Regions from separate parts of the Homo sapiens genome. Here region 2 is linked to region 1. Evidence: fine-mapped expression QTL. Tissue or cell type: neutrophils. Region 1 holds a variant in brackets; the other region holds the start of a gene. All regions are shown on one strand. Distances are between the middles of the regions.

Region 1 (8,190 bases):
AATATTTTCAACTACAGTTATTTTCACCTGTTCACTCTACGACTATTGCTTGGTAATAGCTTCATTTACATTTTCAATAATCTCTCATTAAATCAGTATATTTTATTAATTATCTGAGGGGTTTTGGATGTAACAATGAAACAAAGTGTACGGCCTTGAGAAACTCATTATTTAAATGGATAATTATAATAAATATTTAGATAATTTCTATGTTAAAATATTAGGAGTGCACTGAGCCTGGGGAGGTTGAGGCTGCAGTGAGCTATGATCGTGCCACTGCACTCCAGCCTGGGCAACAGAGTGAGACCCTGTCGCCACCAATCCTCCAAAAATATCTATTAGGAGTGCAGAGTGAGACTAGATAGAAGTAAGTAAACAACTTTTAAAATGTAAACATATGTTAAATATGGATATTGGGAAAAGGATTACCATGTATAGGACTATACACATGTGTGCACATAAATATTTATAGATAGAAATTTAAAAATTTCTTTCTTCTCTTCCTAGTCTAAGACATAAATCATCCTTGCAAATTTTTCTTTTACTTTTTTTCTTCCTTTCCCAGGTATTTATAACGGTTACTACCTCATTCCTGCACTTTTCCCTCCATATTCTTCCATGTCCCAGAATCATTCTGCATCTCTTTGTTAGTCTTTCCCTCATATTTTTATGTCAACATTAATGTTTAATTCTGTGCCTTAAAAGCCATGGGTCAGGAACAAATCTTGGTTGATGTGATTTCCGCTTTCAGAATATCGACATGTGTTCCATATTTACTAAGACAAAATAAGTTATTAAACCTGGACAAATTTCTGACTGGCCTCAGCATAGATGCTTTTTCTCTTAAGCATATGAGCATCAATGTGAAGCAGGACTTGTGTGTGCTTTGAGAAAAGTGCTGGCTGGCCCATGCATGTCTGTACATGTGAGTAATCATGCCACCAAAGCTAAAGCTTTTCTTATGTGCTTTTCACAGGAATTTGCCGCGTCTCAGAGCTACTCTGAGTTTTTCTACTCTTATTGGACAGGGCTTTTGCGCCCTGACAGTGGCAAGGCCTGGCTGTGGATGGATGGAACCCCTTTCACTTCTGAACTGTAAGCCTTCAGGATATTTTATGGGAAAGGCATTTAACAAAGATATTTTGCTTGAGTGATAGAGCTCAAGAATTTGGTCCATCAAGTATTAATCAAACTTCTGCTTTGTACTGGATACTGTGTTTGCAGGAGGATGCCTGAAGATATTTGAACAATAGTGCATCCTCATTTTGTTTGTGTGTGTGTGTGTGTTTGTTCGTTTGATTGTTTTTTGAGATAGGGTCTTGTTCTGTTGCATGGGCTGGAGTGCAGTGGTGCAAGCTCTGCTCACTGAAACCTCTGCCTCCCAGGCTCAAGCTCTCCTCTCACCTCAGCCTTCTGAGTAGCTCGGACTACAGGCGTGCACCACTACATGCAGCTAATTTTTTGTCTTTTTTGGAAAGACAGGATTATGATGTGTTGCCCAGTCTTGTTTAGAACTCCTGGACTCAAGTGATTTGCCCATCTTGGCCTCCCAAAGTGCTGAGATTACAAGCATGAGCCACCGCACCCGGCCAGTGCCTGCTTTTGAACTGCTTATAAGCCAGTGAGGGAGACAGATACATAGCATTAGTAAAATATCAGGGTAGTTCTCTTGCTGCTTTCAGAAGTTTGTGTCTGGGACATACTGCAGATGAGAGAAGGGAGAGACAGAGAGAGAGAGAGAGAGAGAGAGAGATCTTTCCCTGAGTGAGTAAATTGAAGCCCAGGAGTCCAGGCTGTAATGGTGGTTGCCTAAAGTCACACAACTTGTCAGTACCCAGAGATAGCATAAGAGTTCTTGGCTTTCTGTGCAGCAAAATAGGGAGCACATCTTTTAAAAAACACAATCTCTGAGAAAAGATTTGCTGAAAATGTAAGGGGTAATATAAAACACTAGTCGTACATATGCTGTGAGCATTTAGACAGGAGTACATATGGTATCTGTGTTAGTCCATTTTTGCATCAGCATAAATGAATGCCTGAGGTTGGATAGCTTATAAAGAAAGGAGGTTTAATTGGCTCACAATCCTGCAGGCTGTACAAGCATCTGCTTGGCTTCTGAGGAGGCTTCAGGGAGCTTTACTCATGGCAGAAGGCGAAGCAAGAGCTGGCATGTCCAATGGCAAGAGAGAACACAAAAGAGAAGGGGCTGGGGGGAGGTTCCAGGCCCTTTTAAGCCACCAGATCTTGCATCAACTAACTGAGTGAGAACTCACTCATCACCAAGAAGAGGGCACCAAGCCATTCATGAGGGATCCACCCCGATGACCCGAACACCTCCCACCAGGCCCCATCTCCAACACTGGGGATAACATTTCAACTAAGATTTGGAAAGAACACACATCCAAACCACATCAGTATCCTTTGAAAGAGGAAATTGTAATTTCTCTATCAAAATATATCACATTTAAAGCCATATTTGAACAGACACCATTCTTCCCTATATACAATATATCATTATTCTCCCAGGAGACAGGATATATTTGATGTAATCATTTGTATTTTACAGTTAAGTAAACTGAGTTACAGAGAAGGTAGAGAACTTTTTAAGTGGCAGAAACACTATATAAATTTGGAGGAGAACACGTAGCTTCGCTTTAGTTAGAAATGGTTTTTGCTGTTTGGGGTGACCTGCTGTTTCTAAGAATGAGTATGGAAACTTAGGGGCTGAAGAGAAAGAGGCACATGACCCCAGTTTCCCGGTAAACTTATTCTGGTATCTAGACTATAATTTTATAACTCTAGAAAGAATGGGTATTTAATATTTTATTTTAGAAATAAACCGTGATTGAATTTACTTTTTCTTCCTTTCTTAAGGTTCCATATTATAATAGATGTCACCAGCCCAAGAAGCAGAGACTGTGTGGCCATCCTTAATGGGATGATCTTCTCAAAGGACTGCAAAGAATTGAAGCGTTGTGTCTGTGAGAGAAGGGCAGGAATGGTGAAGCCAGAGAGCCTCCATGTCCCCCCTGAAACATTAGGCGAAGGTGACTGATTCGCCCTCTGCAACTACAAATAGCAGAGTGAGCCAGGCGGTGCCAAAGCAAGGGCTAGTTGAGACATTGGGAAATGGAACATAATCAGGAAAGACTATCTCTCTGACTAGTACAAAATGGGTTCTCGTGTTTCCTGTTCAGGATCACCAGCATTTCTGAGCTTGGGTTTATGCACGTATTTAACAGTCACAAGAAGTCTTATTTACATGCCACCAACCAACCTCAGAAACCCATAATGTCATCTGCCTTCTTGGCTTAGAGATAACTTTTAGCTCTCTTTCTTCTCAATGTCTAATATCACCTCCCTGTTTTCATGTCTTCCTTACACTTGGTGGAATAAGAAACTTTTTGAAGTAGAGGAAATACATTGAGGTAACATCCTTTTCTCTGACAGTCAAGTAGTCCATCAGAAATTGGCAGTCACTTCCCAGATTGTACCAGCAAATACACAAGGAATTCTTTTTGTTTGTTTCAGTTCATACTAGTCCCTTCCCAATCCATCAGTAAAGACCCCATCTGCCTTGTCCATGCCGTTTCCCAACAGGGATGTCACTTGATATGAGAATCTCAAATCTCAATGCCTTATAAGCATTCCTTCCTGTGTCCATTAAGACTCTGATAATTGTCTCCCCTCCATAGGAATTTCTCCCAGGAAAGAAATATATCCCCATCTCCGTTTCATATCAGAACTACCGTCCCCGATATTCCCTTCAGAGAGATTAAAGACCAGAAAAAAGTGAGCCTCTTCATCTGCACCTGTAATAGTTTCAGTTCCTATTTTCTTCCATTGACCCATATTTATACCTTTCAGGTACTGAAGATTTAATAATAATAAATGTAAATACTGTGAAGTGTGTGTGATTTTACAATGGACTTATGGTTGGTGGGAAAATTCAGCATGGAAATGCTTTTCAAAATATGATAGCGGTCATTATTTTGATTGTGCCTTACTGAAAGTTTTTGGGGAATTTACAAGAGTACTGATTACATGATTATCTGGAGAAAATAAGATGTCTTTGAAATACGTGTTGGCTTCAAGAAAACAGTTTTAACGTTTTCCTAAAATGAAATCTTTTGAGGTGAGCTTATGGCATCAACACATGGTTGATGAGGAAGCTGAGTTGCATTAGTGCACATGATTTCC[A/G]GTCAGGTCATGGGAAATGAACAGAGACAGTGACATCTTTGTAGCTGCTCCTTTGTGAGGCACTTCTTTCTTGAGACGACTCCATGCACAAATATAACAGGGATCATTGGGAATGACACCATCACAGCCACCAAGTTTATTGGTTTACTGATAAATCAATTTTGAGGGTTTTATGCTAGAAAAGATAACATTATAAATCTTTGTTTTTCAACAGTGGAAACTGAGGTGCTTCAGTTTTGTTTTTCATAAACATCTATCTCATGGTAAAATGACGTATAGTAGCAATCATATGATAGAAAGAACACATTGGTGCTCATTTTCATAAACTTCATTTTGTTAGATTGTCACTTAGCAAAGACTATTGCGGATTCTTCCTTGAGAACTTTCCTTTCAATTTTCTGTTGATTTCCTTAAAATTTTCTTCAGGGTCGAGCAAGTTCTGTTGATATATTGTGTCATGCAAAGAAAACTGTATTTGTGGTTAGAAAATGAAGATTTTAGACCTCTTATTCTGATTTACTTATTAGGCAAGTCACTTTACTTCATGAAACCTATTTCACTGCATATGAAGTAGAAATAATTATAATTTCCTCATAATGTTACTGTTAGCTGAAATAAAGTAAATGTGAAATCAGTTTCATAATGTGAACTGCAATAAAAAATGTAAGGGAAGTCAAGAAAATATTTTTAAAAGGATCTAGTGATTTATTTTTAAATATAGGGGCGCACATACACATGCATAAGCAATGTTAAAAAGAAAAAAACTTCAGCTCAATTAAATTTAAAAGAGTTTAATTGAGCAATGACTCATTCACAAATCAGGCAGCCTCCAGAGCCAGAGTAGACTCAGAGGCTCCAGTGCAGCCATGTGGTGGAAGAAGATTTATGGACAGAAAAAGGAAAACGTAGTAAAGAAAACGGAAGTGAGGTACAGAAAAAGCTGGATTGCTTACAGCTCGGAGTTTGCCTTATTTGAACACAATTCAAACAGTTGGCTACATTTGATTGGCCAAAGCACAGTGATTGGCACAAGTATAGACTAGGGTCTGTTTACCCCTCAACTTGTTATAGTTGACATTATGTACAGAGAATCCTTTAAGCTAAACTTAAAATACGTAAAAAGGCAGCGTTAGGCTAAACTTGATTTATTAATAACAACAAACTTCTTTGGAAATCTGTATTTATGAACAAATTGTAGAAGGGCACCTACTTTGGGGAGCTAAGGATTTTATTACCAAATATTTTTGATGATGAGTGCAGATTTTCGATGAAAGTAGTTCATATAATAGGTACATAACAAGAAATGAGAAGTAAGCCTGCAGTTAAGCAATTGTTATGTAAGCCTTGTTGCTACAGAAAGAAAATATGACTGATAGGAGGAAGTCAAATGATTTTGTGGACTAAGCTGTAAAACAGAGACATGCACTCATTTAAGTTTTGACTCCTAGCATCCTATGTGGCTGCAGTCTAGCTCAGGGATGGATGACAAGCCACTCTTTAAGTGCCATTGATGTGAAGGGTCTAGCTGCCTAGAGTGAGTTTTGAATGGTATGTCATTCCAAGTCTGGGACTAAGGGATAGTGTCACTTTAGATTGTGAGGAGGAAAAAATAGCATACATTTGACATACTTCAGCTCCTTCCCTGAGTTTATTCTTCATGTTTCCCCTTAATCCCTTTGTCTTTATAGCAAAACTCACAATATTGATCACAATGTGAACAAACATTTCAAAACAACAGAAAAAAGTGTATAGCATAGCATTCTCACTACACACTTTAGAAAAATGATATTAAGAATAGGACATAATGATAAAGTGAATTTTAAAATCTGATTTGCTAAGAACAATATCCAGTTGAGAATCAGAGAGGGGCACTGTATGAACTGGTTTTTCTGGATGAGGAGACTTTTTTCTTTCTAGGTTCTTGTTTATGTAATTCTGAAGAAATTGCAGGAACAGTCAAACGAGGAGCCCAGCCTTTCCTGGTAGAGCTGAGATCTCCGGTACACAATAAGCTCTTTCTTTTCCTGAGGATATTGAACCAGCTTTCAGGATTTATCAACAGGAAACAGGTCATGAGCCCTGTAACAGCAGGAAGTGTGAGAAGAGTAACGGGGAGCTTTTATTTTGAGGATACAAACACATTATGAACAAGGAGAAAAGTCTAGTAGGTTAGCAGGTTGTCTCTGGGCCAGCTTTAATATTTGGGAGTCAACTCCTCTGTAGAGAGATTCTTACAGTATTTGAAGATTACAAACAAATCAGGATCCTCTGATTTAAAGTCTGCGTGACTTTTGTACACGCTTCATTATATGAATAGATTTTTAGGCTCGAATAGTATCTACTATTATTCTACCAATATTATTATGTATACTTTTTATACATTTAATGTACTTTAACCAAACATGTAAAAAAACTCTTCACATTTGCAGGATAGTTTTATTTTTAGTTTTCTTTTCGTTTGTTTAAGACTAACTTAGAACTCAATGAAAGAGATCTAAGATGCCCAATTCATTGTTGGTGGGACTAGGATATAAGACTGGCATACTCAGTGTTGTATCTGAAAAGCCTTGGTATCCTGGACCAAAAGCAACCTGCAGAGAAGAATCACCCAACTATAGCATCTGTGTGGAAAGTAGCATCGCTGCTGAGGAGATTTGTAGGAGCTGAAGTCAGCTGCGCTGTAGATAAATTCTAATTTGAAAATACTGCATCATACACTACGGGATGACATCAGCTGAAGGATGTTTGCCTTTTGCTTTATTGTACTTCTTAAAGAATGATTATAAGTGCTTCGTATCCTTCCTCTAAACATAGTTCCATGACAATACTTTGAAGAATCTTTAAGGCAAACAGTCTTTGCTAGTAAATTCCACTATTGTTTCTCCTTTATTCCAGGTTATTACATTCAGCTGCCAGCTGTCAGCTGTAAAAATCAAACACAGGAGACAATATATGCTGTGTTTTCTCTGCTATTCTCCTTTTTCAGGTTCTGCAGAAAATTAGAGAAAAATCTCTTTTACTTAAACTCCCACATTTAAACTCTAGGTCAAGGGTAAATAAACAAAAACATGCTCTTCTCATCCTTACACAACCTTACCCATTGTAAAAGGACATTTAGGTAAGAGGATATTTAGTTTCATTTAAATGATTTCCAGTGACTCAGAGAATTAGGTTTTTTTTTTACTTTATATATTTAAGTGATGCCTTTATGCTTAGGAAGAAAAGATGATAATCTAATGAATCTCAGCTCCTCTTTATGAGAAATGAAGAATTAAATAAAATTATACTGAATTAAGCAAATATTTATTGAGAACCTACTATGTGGTACGGCGTTCTTGCAGGGACGTAAGTGGTAACAAGTAATATAATAATAATTAAAGAATCTGTTCTTTCTGTAGATCACAGGGTTCTTTGCTATTAATGGTCTCTAGGGAATAAGATAGTCCATGCTTCAGGGAGTCTACAGACTTAGGGCAGAGAATGTCTATAGATTTATTTGAGGAGAATCCATTAACTTTAAAGCAGATATTCTCTCCAGAGAGTTGCTGACATTTTACACATAAACTTTAACTTCTGAATATCCCTCCAAGAGGAGCAAAAAAAGGGATCATTTTTGCCTGGGATGCACAAATAAAGGTTGATGTGTATAGATGATTGGTGGTGTAGTCCAGAGAACAAAACCAAGCACTGATAGAGTGTTCAACTCTGTGCAAGACTATTCTCAGCACTGACATATATTTACAGTCTACTCCTCACACAATATTTTGGAGTAAGTTCTGCTGTTATTTTACAATGAGGCAATCGAGGCACTGAAAGACGTAATCAAAAGTGTTGGCGTGTTAACCCTGAGGGACCAGACCATGAGCCCTTTGGTTTGCGAATGCCAGGCATGGTCATTGAGAGGAAAGAGGGAATTCACAGAATTCTCTGGAGAACATTCTGATCCTGGCATCCTGACTATTCCTTCTGCTTATGTCAACTTCTAGTAGT
Region 2 (8,190 bases), 28 kb before region 1:
AGCCACCTTAGCTCCCCTGTCAGGTCAGCTGGGAAGCTATCCATCTCCCAGACTCACATCTGTCCCAATATTCTGGCTATTCAGATCAGACAGGCCTCTCTTTTCATCTGCTGGAATGTTAGTGCTCCAAGTAGAGAACTGTGACTCTGCCTCTTATGTAAGCCTGAAACTGGAGGGTTGCTTCCCCTGTGGGGTTGCGGTCACCCTGAAGTGTTCTACAAAGTCTGTCTATGGGTGCACCCATGCTGAGCTCTTGTGGGAGAAGACCCAGCTGTGTCTGCAGTGGTGGACGAGGTTGGTAAGAAGTCCCCTTCTCCAAGATCCTTGATAAGCACCAGGGCTGTCTGACTGTTGGGACAGCTGTAGACATTCCCTGCTGAGCCCAGCACTTCAATTCTGCCTCTATTGAAAGAAACTTCCCACCAGTGGAACAATCTAATCCTTAAGACCTGCCATCTGGATTCTTTATTCACACAGGGTGTTCCCTTGATGTGGCACACTCTCCCTTTCCTTAGGAGTAGAAGTTCCTGAGAGACAGACTACTATGAGTGCTGCTGCTCCTCAGGGTCTAGCCACTCAGTGGCTCCAGACTAGTGCTGGGGGATGTCTGCTAAGGATCCAGTGATATGACCTGTCCTCCAGTTTTCCAGCAGCTGTTATCAGCACCAGGTCTGATGGGGGTGCCAGAGGCGTGACATAGACCTGTGAGATTCCTTGATTATAGATAACTTTAGTGTGTTGTCTTTCTTGAATGCTAGTTCAGGTAGTAATAAACTGGTCATGTGGATAGACTCAGGACCTCCTGGTTAGACAGGGTAGTGCAGGAAGTGGTAATAGCTGAGGTCACACAGTAGTTTTGTCCTTCTTGAGTGCAGTGTTATTCCACCTACAGATGCTGCAATGGACTGTGTTGGTAGGCTTCCAGCTACTGGGTGGCATTTGCAAAAGAGTATCAGGTGTGGTAGTAGCAGTGGGATTTGTGCTTGCCTTATGTTGCCCAGGGTAGGTAGTCTGGCTTCTCAGGTGATGGATGGGGCTATAAATCTCCCCAGGGTTTCTGTCCTTTGTATTAAGCTACCACGGTGGGTGGAGGGGCAAAGCCAGATGAGGGCTGTGTTAGGTGGGTCTGCACTCTGAGTCACCATGTGCATGGCAAGCAGCGGCCCCTTTTGGAGATGTGGTTGCACAGGGAGTGGGGAGTAGTAGGCAGCAGTAAGCCTAACCCAGATGTCACACAGTTGGCAAGGCAGATCTGGCTCCTGCAGTACTCTGCTAGCAGCAGTGAGCTAAGTTCCAGGCAGTCTGCACTCAGAGCTCACAACTGCCTGAGGCCATAAACTTTTCCCGTGGTGATAGCAACTGCTGGCGTTCAGGCCATGCCCCTCTCTGTCCACCCACACAGCTGGCACCCAGATCCTGCACTCACGGCTGCAACACATTTCCCACTCACCTTTCTGGTTCTGGCCAAGGGAGTTCATTTCACTTGAGGTTATATTGTGAATTTCAGTTGGGAGTTTTTACAATGTGCAACCCCTGGCTGAGCTAGTTGGCTGAGTTCCGTGAGGTTGTCTGTGAGGCATAAGGAATAGTTTCCCTTGGCTCATGCTGGAGACTGGGAATGCACACAAGCCTCTTCCTGCTGCTGCTCTTACTTTTATATTCATCACTGCTCTTTTAATTGGTTCCAGTGCTGGGACGGGTTAAGGCCTTCCCCCATGGCATGGACTTTCAGGTTCCCCTGTGGGGGTATGTATCCTGGAGCCAGTCTCTTCACCTCACACACCCTGGGAGCTTACAGTTTTTCACCTAGCTCATGGTGTAGGTATAACCTGCTGCTTCTTTCAAAGAGTCTGTGGATTCTTTCAGTTTTCCTGTTCAGTTCCTGTGTTGCTTCTTGGGAAAAGAGTTCACAGTGAGAAGGTTTTTTTTTTTTTTTTTTTTTTTCAGATGGAGTCTCGCTCTGTTGCCCAGGCTGGAGTGCAGTGGTGTGATCTTGGCTCACTGCAACCTCCGCCTCCCGGATTCAAGTGATTCTCCTACCTCAGCCTCCCCAGTAGCTGGTATTATAGGCACCCGCCACCACGCCCGGCTAATTTTCATATTTTCAGTAGAAACGGGGTTTTGCCATGTTGGTCAGGCTGGTCTCGAACTCCTGACCTCAGGTGATCCACCCACCTCAGCCTCCCAAAGTGCTGGGATTAAAGGCGTGACCACCATGGCTGGCCCACAGTGAGAATTTTTTACTCACTATTTTGTCCTTCCAAGTGGTAGAGTCATGCTAACACTGCCTCCAATCTGCCATCTAAAAAAAAAAAAATTCCAATTTTTAAAAAATTTAGAATAATTTGATGAACAACAAACAGCTTGAAACACATGTGAATCCACAATGTGCACTTCCTCATAGATCTTTTATATGGTCTGGCTACCCCAACTGGAGCATTCTGACACTCCTTTATATTTAGCATGCTTGATTTTGCCCACCTATCACCTAACATCTGGAAAAGTTTTGGTAGAGTAATATAAGTCTATTGTACAGATTCAGGAAGAACTTTTAGACATTATCTAAAACAATCTTCTTGTCTTTCAGTTTAGGAAATGTAGATGCAAATTGTTAATTGTCCTCCCAAAGGCACAAGGTTGTTACTGATACCTGTCTTGTTATGGTTTGAATGTGTTTCCTGCAGAATTCAGGTGTTGCCAGTGTGGTAGTATTGAGAGAGGTGGGGCCTTTAAGAGATGATTAGTCCTTGAAGTCTTCTCTCTTGAGGATGGTATTAAGGCCTTTATAAAAGACGCTACATGTAGCATTTGGCTGGCTTGACCTTCTGCTTTCTGCCACGTGAGAATACCCTTCCTCCTCTACAGAGAGTGCAGCTCTCACCTGACATCCAAACCTGCCAGTGCCTTGATCTTAGATTTCCCACCTTCTGGAATGCTGAGAAATACATTTCTATTGCTTATAATTTATCTGGTCTCAGGTATCCTGTTGTAGGTCAGCACAAACAGACTAAGATGGGAATATAATTCTAATGTACTGATTCAGGAAGAATTTTTTCACATTACCTAAAACATTTTCTTCTCAGTTTAGGAGATTTAGGCACAAATGAACTGGCTTCCCCAAACCACATGGTGGTTAGTAATAGTTTTAAAAGTTTTTACTTCCAGTAAATTGTATAATTCCTCGTGATCATAATGTACCAAATGTGCTATAAAATGTTGAATCAAGTTCAGATACTATAAGAAAGACCACTACTCTGTTCTTGGAGAAAGGAAGGGGCTAGGTCCTATAATCTCTTCTCTTTTCACAAAGACACAGAGAGGTTAAACTAAGTGACTCCCTAAAGGATGGGTAAGAAACAGGGATGTGTGTCCTTCCAAGTTATTATTATTCTGCAGACTCTGAAGGAACCACAGTGCTACACCGTGCTATTGTAAGTTCTTGCCTTCTTTACAGTGAAGTTACATGAGAAATGCAAACAGGTAAACAAAAAAGACCTGAGAAAGGCCAACTTTTTGACAACTGTTTAGACTGAGACGGCCTAAACAGAAAACACATGCTATTTCCCCTCAGCCTGACTGATTTGGCATTCAGAGTACAAGCTCACAGGAGAGGGGCTGGGCCTGTCCAGTCAGGAATTGCAGTCAGAGACTTTCCCTGCCCCTCGCTGGGAAAGAACATTAGGAATGCCTTTTAGTGCCTTGCTTCCTGAACTAGCTCACAGTAGCCCGGCGGCCCAGGGCAATCCGACCACATTTCACTCTCACCGCTGTAGGAATCCAGATGCAGGCCAAGTACAGCAGCACGAGGGACATGCTGGATGATGATGGGGACACCACCATGAGCCTGCATTCTCAAGGCTCTGCCACAACTCGGCATCCAGAGCCCCGGCGCACAGGTACCCTGTCTCCTGGAGTCCAAATAGACCACAGTCCTTGTGAAATGTGTGAGATGATCTATCCCTCCTAGAAATGGAGATATTTAGCTTGCATCTTATAATTTTATTTCCAATTACTCGCCCTGTGACATAGTAGTGATTTTTTTTTTTCAGTTATATTCAGTTCCATAATTCCCACACTTAGAGAAGGATTTTATTTCCTGGGCCACTCAGCCAATCTAAAGCTAAAATATGACTTCAGTTCTAGTGAAAAGGACTCACATGGTAATATACACAGGACTAGGTTCTAGGTCCTAAACCAGGTATGCCACTTTCCTTCTGTGTAACTTTGGATGAGTTGTTTAAGTATCCTGGTAGCATCATATTCTTTATTTATAAAATATTAACGGCCACAAACATGTATAAAGGGCTCATTATGTGCTGGCAGTGTTTTAAATACTTTAAGTATATTAATTCATATTAACTTGACTTAATATTAAATAGAAGTAATAAAACTTCCTTTACAAGGTGGTTGTGAGTACTGAGAATGATAAATTATGTAAAATATTTGAATGTCTGTCTGATCTGATATAGACTGACACAAAATTGCTGAAAGGAACACTTTAGGTTCTTAAGAAATGGAATGTTGAAAGGAATCCCACATTTTAACATTCATTCAGTGCCTGTGTTTTAATATGCCCTTTCCCTTCTGATTATATCATTGTTTTCTTCACCTTTGTAAATCTGGATATACCTTTAAAAAAAAAAAACTATCCTGTTCCTTATTTCTTTATCAAATAACTTTTAGTTTTCCTTCCTTTCTCCTACTAAACCCTCCATTCACTTTCTATTTATTTCTATTTATTAAATGACCCTCCACCTGAAACCTACTAATATGGCTTTTTTTTTTTTTAACTAAACTACCCAGTAAGCTGTTAAGGGACATTGGGGATTTCCAACCTCTTTGAAATGAAGCTAAGTGACAAAAGTAGGGATGTCAGCTTTTGTAGCCACAGGATATGTGTAATAGGATACAAAGCGTTTTCCTCCAAAAAAACTTACGAAGAGTCCATTTTTACGGCTGTGGTTTTGAGTAGCTTGTATATAACTTCATTTTCCACCTTTGACTGGAGCCAGGAACTCTGTCAAGGACTAGAGATCAGCATAATTAAGAACAGCATGTACAAATAAGTTCTGCTGAGGTTGAAGGGTGGAGAGGGAGGTGGAGCAAGATAAAACACTAGCTGCAACATCTGGGAGCTTCTTTGTAAGAAATGGATATTGAAACAGTAGAAGTGGAGATTACAAAGAATTGTCTTGGAAGAAATCATCTGGAAATAGTTATCTTAGGCAACATATATGAGATCTTGTTTTCATCTTTTTATGGTAATACAAACATTTAGGGGAATACCATCATAGAAGTATAATTATTTCTTAGATAAACATATCTGATATACCTTCGCTGATAAAAATAACAGCAGAAATCACTCAGAAATTTTCGGCAATGTGGAGGATTCAGATTCAACATAATGATGTGATACCATTAAGAGCTGGCAACTTTTATTTTTTAGAATTAATAAAAATAAATCACACACACATTCATTTAATTTCTAGACTTTTGTCAATAACAATTGACGTAACAACTATGTTTGTGTTTAAAAATGCCAAACAATTAAGATAGTAAAAATGCCAAACAATTAAGATAGTGAAAATGAAAAACAACAACCTCATACATTTTTCACAAACTTATGTTTGGGGTCATGTTATCCTAGTACTGAGGATATAATGTCCAATGTGATATGGTCCCTGTTCATAAGGAAATTGAAAGTCTAATACAATTCTCAACTAAGGAGTAAGTATAATAAGGTGTTATGGCAGAAGCATGTACAGTACAGCCGAGAGCTTAACCAAGCTCTCGGCTTAATTTTTACCTAATTAAGTAGAGGAGTTCAGGAAAGGCTTAACAGAAGGAGCAACTGTGGAGTTGAGTTAATTTTAACATCTTCCACATAATAAGGAATCGGGAGTGAGGGTGTTTGAGAGGCTGGGGACACTATAGACAGAGAGACGTATGAAGGGAAAGTCATGAAGGTTTTCAGTAGCTTTGTATTTTTAGAGAACTATAAGCAATATGTATGGCGTAGGTGTAGAGTTGGAGGAGGGAAACTTAGCAAAGGGGTAAGTCTGGCAAGTTAAGGAGGGATTTTAGGGCATGCTGATCTAGTTTAATTCTATTCAATAGTTAAAATGAAGTCAATGCAGGATTTAGATAGGGAGAAACAAAATTTTGCATTTTGGAAAGACCTTCCTGGCTGCAATGGAAATGATAAGTTGAAGGTATATGAAACTGCATGTGCTGATACCAAATTTTTCCACTAGTCCAGTACAAGGGTAGAAAAACCTGAACTGAGGCAGTATAGTAAAAATAAGGAAAAAGAATCAGATATGAAAGATGTCGAGGTGTTGGAGTTTAGATAATCGGTGATTGGTTACATGTGAGGAGACAAGGAAAGGGACTTCGGTGGTAGGTTGACTAGGTTCTGTTTGATGTAATGTAGATGGTGCTGATGTTAACTGAGACAGAAACTATAGAAGGGACAGGAAAGATGATGAATTGAGTTTGAGTTTAAGGGGTCTGCAGAAGGAGGGACATGCATTTGGAGCTGTCCAAAGACACCCGTATATGCAGGATGTGGGTTGGGCTACATAGACATGTGGGAATTACTGGCATAGTAATTAAATAAATAAAGTAAATGAGGTACCTAAGTCATTAAGTCAAATAAATGGCTAGTAACTAAAATGTATGAGAGTGAGTGAGATCACTGAGGGAAGGAATGTAAAATGAAAACATGAATGAACAGAAGAGAGTGTCAAGGAGATAATCTGAGGGAATATCAACACCTGAGGAGCAAGAAGAATGAAAGATTCCAAAAGGAGCTACCAGGGATGAATAGCAGAGAGTGGTAGAAGCAGGAGTCTTGGAGAGAGACAACAAGGGCATCAAGAGACAATAAATTCAAGAGTAATGGAAAATTAGAGTAATGGAAGGACAATAAATTCAAGAGTTTTAGAAAAGTCAATGATAATGACTGTGAGTTTTAAAAACAACAAATAACAAATACTGCAGAGAGTTTAAGCGAAAGGAAGACTAAAATGATTATTTAACAATTTATCAATAAGGAGGAAAATATTTAGTTTTGACAGCAGTGGTTTGAAAAGGAACTGATGGTTACATAATAAAATAAACAATTTAAGTCATTTTCTCTTTTTCTTTCTCTCTTTTTTTTTGAAGATAAAATGGGTTATTGCTGAGGTATTACAGCATTGGGTGACAGATTTTAAGAATGATTTTTTAAGATGTGGGAAATTCTAACTCAATTGTAGATTGAAAATAAGTTCAGGGAGAGAACTTCACATTAACAGTACAGTAAGAGGAGAGAGGATGAAATAACTGACAGGCTGAGATTCCTGCCAGAGACTAAATTTTATCCTATCAAAAGAATATGAAAAATTACTTTGGTTAAATAATTTTAAAAAATTTAATAATAAATTCAAGTTCCTCTTTTCCCTTGTTCACATTAATTACAGTACTATTGAATTTCCCAGCGTTTTAGTTTTATTTCCTCAATTACAGCATAAATCCCTCATCACAGTCATGACATAAATCGCTGTTAACTGATTCAACAACTCTTTAAATCAAACCTACTAATGACAAGACATTATGGGATGTACTAGAGGAGCCTCTTTTTCAGGTGCTTAGAGAAGTGGAAGGAATACTCTAAATCAATAGTTGTAGTAAATGTCATTTAGTGCTATTAAATCAATGTTGGAGGCCGCAGAAGCAATATAGGAATGAATGAGTTACTGATTGAGTTTAGTTTTGCGAGTTCCCAGAGGAAGTGACATGATCTGGACCCATGAGGCTAAGAAGTAAAATGGGATCCTATTAGGAGGAGCCTGATACAGTACACTAAGAAACTGACTAAAACAGAAAGAGCCTTGGGAAACTTCTTCCTATGGAAGAGAGGAAGTATGATTAAATTTATGCTTTCAGAATTCATCTTGCTGGCAGAGTGGACATTTCATAATGTAGAAGGGAAAAGTTGCAAGCTGCTGTCATTCTATGATTCCAGATGCACTGCCATGTATAAATATTGATCTGAGATGTGTTGGGAGGATAGGAAGATGATTGAAAATGTCCAGCTCTGGAATCAGTCAGCTTGGGTAGCTCTGTGCAACTTAGTGACTTAGGCAACTTAAGTGACTCCTTGGTAATTCAATTTTTGTAAAGGTTGCTTCCAGTGAAATAATGTGT

Evidence for each region. PIP is the estimated chance that this variant, and not a neighbour inherited with it, causes the effect.
Region 2: CLEC1A starts here. The variant in region 1 is fine-mapped to the expression of CLEC1A in neutrophils (BLUEPRINT, PIP 0.95). The same link has a PIP of 0.9 or more in whole blood.

The regions. Positions count from the first base shown.
Region 1 is chr12:10,066,198-10,074,387 of GRCh38, reverse strand. It overlaps CLEC1A (C-type lectin domain family 1 member A), which reads left to right. Exons shown (of 6, transcript NM_016511.4): 5 at 977-1,095; 6 at 2,875-4,834. The coding sequence ends at 3,055. Among named protein-coding and RNA genes, the nearest start is that of CLEC1A, 29 kb to the left of the region's middle. The variant A/G (reference allele first, on the strand shown) is at 4,201.
Region 2 is chr12:10,094,514-10,102,703 of GRCh38, reverse strand. CLEC1A (C-type lectin domain family 1 member A) reads left to right here and starts at 3,719. Exons shown (of 6, transcript NM_016511.4): 1 at 3,719-3,896. The coding sequence starts at 3,782.